Homo sapiens: one gene and its partner. The protein of the gene in region 1 purifies or fractionates together with the protein of each later gene. This does not show direct contact. Each region holds a gene or a part of one and is shown on either strand. Other genes may lie near its edges.

The links.
Region 2: the proteins of SLC6A9 (region 1) and NUP210 purify together in Homo sapiens (affinity purification with mass spectrometry; one large-scale study listed by BioGRID and IntAct). This does not show direct contact.

Annotation. Positions count from the first base shown.
Region 1 is NC_000001.11:43,997,981-44,000,533, forward strand, and holds part of SLC6A9 (sodium- and chloride-dependent glycine transporter 1), read right to left. Parts: intron 246-2,553; coding exon of another isoform or gene 144-245; exon of another isoform or gene 46-143; coding exon 1-45. UniProt on the Homo sapiens protein: Sodium- and chloride-dependent glycine transporter. Essential for regulating glycine concentrations at inhibitory glycinergic synapses.
Region 2 is NC_000003.12:13,322,708-13,326,520, reverse strand, and holds part of NUP210 (nuclear pore membrane glycoprotein 210 precursor), read left to right. Parts: intron 1-589; coding exon 590-726; intron 727-3,088; coding exon 3,089-3,212; intron 3,213-3,813. UniProt on the Homo sapiens protein: Nucleoporin essential for nuclear pore assembly and fusion, nuclear pore spacing, as well as structural integrity.

The DNA of each region.
Region 1 (2,553 bases):
GTAGGTGATCGGCTGGTACTGGATCACAGTGAAAACTAGAATAAACTGCACGGGGCAGGTGTGGGAGTGGGCGTGAGGCCGACCCAGAGCCCAGACCCCAGGCCATCCCTCTACCAGCACCCTTTCCTCTCTGGTTTCCCAAACTAGAAAAGGGCATTTGGGGCAGAACAGGGACAGCTGTCAACATCTGGGCCGTGGAAGAAGCAGGCAGGGCCGGGGGCCGGAGCGCGGTGAGTGGGAAGGCTCTGCGGAAGGGAGAAGTCTGTCTTTGCCACAGTCCTGAACTGGCCAAGCACAGTAGAGCTGCTGCCGCCTTTGGAATCAGTCAGTTCTGCTCGCTATGGCTCCCCATGGCTAACTGAAGTAAGGCCACATCCTGGGCCTTTAGGCTGTCACCTGGCAGTGTGACCTCAAATTGTCTTGCCGGCCACACTACTCCGCCCTCAGTGTTTCAGTCACACCCAGTGTTTCCCACCCACTCTTCATTTATTCTGGGGAATCATCCTCTGCATCTTCCTCTGTCAAACCCTATGTCAGTGCCCTCTCCTTCAAAAAGCCATCCCAGATTTCCTCCATTTCCTTCTGCAGGGCCTCCCCACGGCGTTTTCCACCTGCTTCCCTTAGAGTGACTTGGTTTAACGTTCCCATAGACCTGAGAGCTCCTGGAATTGCATCAACTCTGGGGGTGCAGTGCCCAGTACAGTGCCTGCCACAGTCTCTTGTGTTGATTTGAACTGATTTGTGCAGAGAGGCAGAGGAGGATGGAAAGAGGGTAGGGCAAAGCCCTGCCTGTCTATGGCCGTGGAGACAGGGACATTCAGCCTGGGGAAGCTCCATGGGCTAGAAATGGTGAGTGTCAGGCTGCGGTGCTCTAGGGAACCTCCTTGGAAAGAGATGAGTGAGATTGGAAATAAAACTTGTGGCTGCAGTAACAAAAGGAGTGAAAGGAGGCAGAAACACAGGCAGTGGCTGGCGGGCCACCCAGAGGGCCTGGCGGGGGAAGGGGGGGGGCAGTCCCAGCACCCTCCTCCTGAGCCTCCAGCCACATCCTGGAGCACAGGGCCATATTCTAGAATGCAAGACCCACATCCAAATTGGGGGACCCTCCGGAGACACTGCACACGATGGGAGCTTATAACAGGTTTCCTGAATGGAACAGATCCTGACCTACGTGTGGACAAATCCCTCATTTGAGCTGACAGAAGGGTGGAGTTTGTCAAAAAGAGCTTTTCAGAAATATGAAAAAGGAAAGCCCCCAGAGAAAACACAACAGCCCAGAAAGCCAGGCTGGAGTTACCCCAAGGAGAGGACTCTAGGCTCCCCTAAAGGTAACTCCAGCCTGGCTTCCTGGGCACAGGAAGAGCCCCGCCCGCTGTGCCTCAATCTTGTGGAGACACCAGATCCCAGCCAAGGTTGCCCCTACAGATCCTTCTTGTGCTTGTCTCCTTCCTCCCCACTGCCCTTGGCAGGTGCCCCCTGGTCTCTCCCCAGGACATCAATCTAGTCTGAATGCTGGGAGACCCTCTGAGCCGCAGAGGCTGAGCTCCCCTTGGGCCATAGCCCCAGAAGGCATGGCACTCTGGGGTGGTGGTGCCTGCCCTCCCCTGCCTCCCACCACTGAGACTTCCGTTCCTCCTGTTTCAAAGCTGGGCCAGTGGCCAGAGCGGGGAGCCTGTGCCAGGCTCGGGAACATCCCACAACCTACCGGGTAGAGGCCTCAGCCCTCCACGGGCCTTTATTCAGAAACATGAGCCACAGGGGAAGTCTGGTGCTGAGCCCCCTGTGCCACCGAGGCATTAAACATGACAAGAGTGTGGCTCTGAACACTGGCCGGGCCACTGGGCCAGCCCTCTGACTATCACTCAGAGGTGGCCTTGCCTGTCCTCTGTGGAGTGACCATTACACTGTCAATACCTGCCTTCCCCGAATCCCACCCCAAACAGGAAGGAGCCAAGTCATACGGTTTTGGCCCCTGGACCATTCCTCCCTCCTGCAGAGGTGTTTCTAGTGTGGCGCTGGCCCAGGCTTGGAATTGGACAACCTGATTTGAATTGTGGCTCTGCCTCTTATTAGCTGTGTGACCATGGGCCAATTACTTAACATCCCCATGCCTCAGTTTCCTCATCTGTAAAGTGGGGACAACAATGACACCTTGGAGAGCTCTATCACGGGTTACATGGGAATGGTGTGTGGAAAGTGCCTGCTTCCTTGCCATGGTGGATTCCTTCCACCAATTCAGCTCCCTGATGGGAATTTCTCAGCTGTTGAATATTCATAAAACCTGGAACTCCCCTTCCCAAGCCACCCACCTCACTGCCTGGAAGGCTTGCAAAGTTGCCCCCATGCAGAGCTGACCTCTGACTCCACAGTCTGGTCTACCAGCCTTGGGCTGCTGCTGGAACACTGGTTCCCACCACATAGCCAAGGCCCTGGAACACCCTCCCTGGAGGGATGGGAGATAAGGCCAGCAGGCAGAGGCTGACACGCTATCGATATTGACTCCTGAGTCCCCGGGGGTGCCAGGCAGGAATGCCTGAGCAACGTCTGCAGTCA
Region 2 (3,813 bases), on another chromosome or scaffold:
TAAAAGGAGATGAAATACTACCTTTAAGGAAAAACAAATATAATTTGCCATAAATAGATTATGGTTGAGTCCTTTAATTGTACTTATTATATAATGTGATTGGCTTTTAACTCAGATGTGTATGTGGTGAAAGCTCTGAGCCTCACACCTGCTGTCTGTTGCTAAAAAGGAATTGATAAGGCAACGAAGGGATGGGGAGGGGCTGTGCTTTGGGGAAGGAGCTACAGAGGGCAGGGCCTGGCAGCAGCACCAGACCATTCCTGGGCAGGAGTCAGCTAAAGCTTCATGCCAGGATGGTCAGGAGATTCCAGGCAGGGAGTTGTGGGTCAGGGAGAGCAGGTGCTAGGGGCCACAGCCCTGTAGAGGGCGGGTGCAGCAGGGTAGGAGAGCTGATGGCTCCAGGTGGCTGGAGTCAGGAGCATGACCGGCACTGGGGCAGGCAGCGTGGCTGTCTCCTGAGGCTGCTGAGTGAGCCCCCATGGGGGTAGCGGCAGCCAGCGAGGAAGCTGGCCTGTCATCCAGGTGAGCTGGGCTTTGACTGGAGTGTCCAGCTATGGAAAGGGGGCTGACACCTGTGCTTCCTCTCCAGGCCTCTCAGGAACCTGGAGCTCCTCGGCCAACAGCATCCTCCACATCGACCCCAAGACGGGTGTGGCTGTGGCCCGGGCCGTGGGATCCGTGACGGTTTACTATGAGGTCGCTGGGCACCTGAGGACCTACAAGGAGGTGGGCTCTAAGCAGCCGGAGGCACATGTGGCTCAGTGGCCTGTGAGGCGGGCCTGACCTTCTGGGAGGATTATGAAGACTTTTCCTTTTAGGGAAAAGCCGTCTGAGGGGTTGGGTCTGGGAGTCATGAGTCTGGGACTGGCCACTTGCTGACTCTGACATGGGGACAAGCTCCCTTTTTTTTCCAGGCTTCAGTCTCCCCATGTTCAAGAGGGTGTGATGAGGACAGGCAGCCTTGTAGGGTGGATTCCAGCTCCCATGGGCTTGGGTCTGGCAACCCCGGAGTGGGCACTTCCTGGGAGCCGGTGCTTCCCTGTCACCTGCAAGGCTAAGACTCCCTGTGCAAGTCACCCTTTGAGTCTGGAGGCGACAAAACCTGCTGTCTCTTCCATTCATCTCCAGTTGAGAATGAATCAGTGGGGCAAGTCTGGCTGAGATCCAAATGCATCTCATTTTTAGAGGCAGCATGTGCTTTATGGAACCTAGCAGTTTAACCTAATTGTTTGCATATTTAGTGCTGCGGCTCTGCAGTTTGGGCGAGCCAGTTGCAGACAGAGGCATCCTGTGACAATACAGCTGTGCTCTCCTGGAAAGAGCCTCTGGTCAGGGGATGGGGTGGCATGGACAAAGGTGTGTAGGGTTCAAGGGCAGAGCCTCGGGGGCTGGAACAGAGGGTGTGGGAGAAGCATGGTCTGGCTTTGTGATCAGATCAGAAAATGCACCAGATTCCAGGCAGTTTGGTGCAGGTTGAGGGTGGGGCATCTACAGCTAGACGGTCTAGGTCAAATCCCAGCTTGGCCACTGCGAGGCTATGACTGAGCAATCATTGAGTCTCGCTATGTCCCGATTTTCTTGCCTGTATAATGGGGATGATAGCGTTGTGAGGATTTAGTGAGTTAGCACGTCAGAAGCCCCTAGGGTGGTGCTCAGCTCATAGCCAGTGCTCAGCAGAAATTAGCTGCTGCTGCTGCTGCTGTTCCAGGGTGAAGGGGTAGAAGCTTATGCCACACTCAGTGGAGTTTTTTAAACAGTGCTATAGACCAAGGCTGTGTTTGCAGAGGTTACCTGGCACCTGGAGGAGCTCGAGAGAGCAGTCGCTACAGGGTAACTGGCCAGAGACTGAGGCCAGGCCCTCAGCTGGGATCACTGGGTGTGGCAGAATCTAAAGGCAGGTTTGGGAGAGACGGGAGGGAGGGAGGCACATCAGAGCTCCATGAGCATCCAGAAGTGAGGCTGGAGGGGAGGAAGGGCTTGGGATGACCAGGCTGCTACTGGTCCTTTGCTGAGAGGGGCACACAGAGGTAGGTAGGCCTGCAGGGAGGTGAGGAGCCTGGGCCGGGGAGCTAGAGATGTCACAGCTCTCCCAGGTGAGGCAGGAGGCACACCTGGGTGGGTGCGGCAGGAGCACTGTGAGGAAGGCTGGACAGGGTGGGGGCCTCAGCCCAGAAGTGGCCTCTGAAGCCCTGGGAGTGGGTGGGAGTGCACGGGCACTCCAGGAGTGCAGGCAGGAGAGGGGCCAGGAAGCCTTGGGCACTCTCTGAGGGTGGACAGGGAGGAAGGGGAGAGGAGGGCCAGCGTTGGGGGGTCCCAGGCTAGAGAGTGGGACACAGCCTCTGTCAGTCCCTGGAGGTGGATGGTGGTAAGCCCTGAGCGGAGGCACCGTGAGTTTGACAGTGATGCCTGGTCACCTACAGCTCTGCATGGGCCACATCCCTGGGAGCTGCAGGGGCTTCAATCGCATCCCTGCTCTGAAGTTCACCTACTGGTAGAAATCAGATCTCCTGGAGGCAGGGAGCGCTGGTGCCTGCTGAGAGAGGGAGGGGGGCCTTCAGCTGCAGGAAGTGGCCTTGGGCCTGAAGGGTGGATGAGGCTGGGCTCTGCAGAGAAGATGGGAGGGTGTCCTAGCCAAGGGAGTGCAGGGAGGTCTCCAGCCTGGGGCTGTTTGGGTGTGGCCAGGTACAGGATGGGCACAGGGGGAACAGCTGGGAAAATCTGGGCAGACTGGATTCTGGGTGGGGTGTGGTGCTGTACTACAGAGAAGTGATCATGGCTGTCCGAACAGCCAAAATCCTCAGCCCACCCAGATCGATTAATGAATTCAGGCCCGCTGCTCAGCGTCCAGTCAGCTGCTGGGGGAAGCAGCTTGTTCAATGGGAGAACTGGGCTGTGAAGTCTGACCAGACTGGGCTCAAACCCCCTCTCTGCCACATTCTAGCAAGGCGTTTAGGCTTTGAGCCTCAGTGTTGCCACCTGTGAAACGGGTGACACTATGTCACAGACTGCAGGGTGAGGTTGTGGAAACGCCCAGCATGGACCGGGACACAGGCGGCGCTCCATGAAGCTTCCTTGGCTCCCTCTCTAGGTGGTGGTCAGCGTCCCTCAGAGGATCATGGCCCGTCACCTCCACCCCATCCAGACCAGCTTCCAGGAGGCTACAGCCTCCAAAGTGATTGTTGCCGTGGGAGACAGAAGCTCTAACCTGAGAGGTACTTAATGAGGGGCTTGGGCTGTCTTCAGAGTACCTGGGAGCGGGGAGGTGGCTTCCTGTGTCCTCTGGATGGAGTTTATCTGCTTCTCCTATTCACACTCACACCAACTCCAGAGAGGGCATTTAGCCCCCACTCATCCACTCCTTCCAGCGTTTCTGAAATTGGAGTCCTCCAAAAGCTGAGCCAGTGAAAGGAATCTTCATAATGGAGCCCAGCTCCCAGAAGGTGCCTGTTCTGCACTGGAAATGTGACTTCAGCCCGAGGGCACCCTAGCAAAGAAAGCCACAATTTCCCACCGTGAATCCCAGAAACTAATGAATTAGCAGGACTCGTCACTGGTTTTAATTTTTGTAATGACCTCTCCCAGGTCATGCATAGAATGTTGAACCCCATCCCCTGCCCATGACAGCCCTGAACAGCAGCTGCCAGAAATAAGTAAGTCAACAGGGCTGTTTTCTTAAACCACCTCACTGGCAGAGTGAAGCACCGCCCTTCTCGTCCTGATTAACGAGGCAGCTCTGTTCCATCATGGCAGCCTCTGCTCCTTCCTCAGCGCAAGTGGACAGCACTGTGCCGTTGCCTAAATGCTGCTCAGATG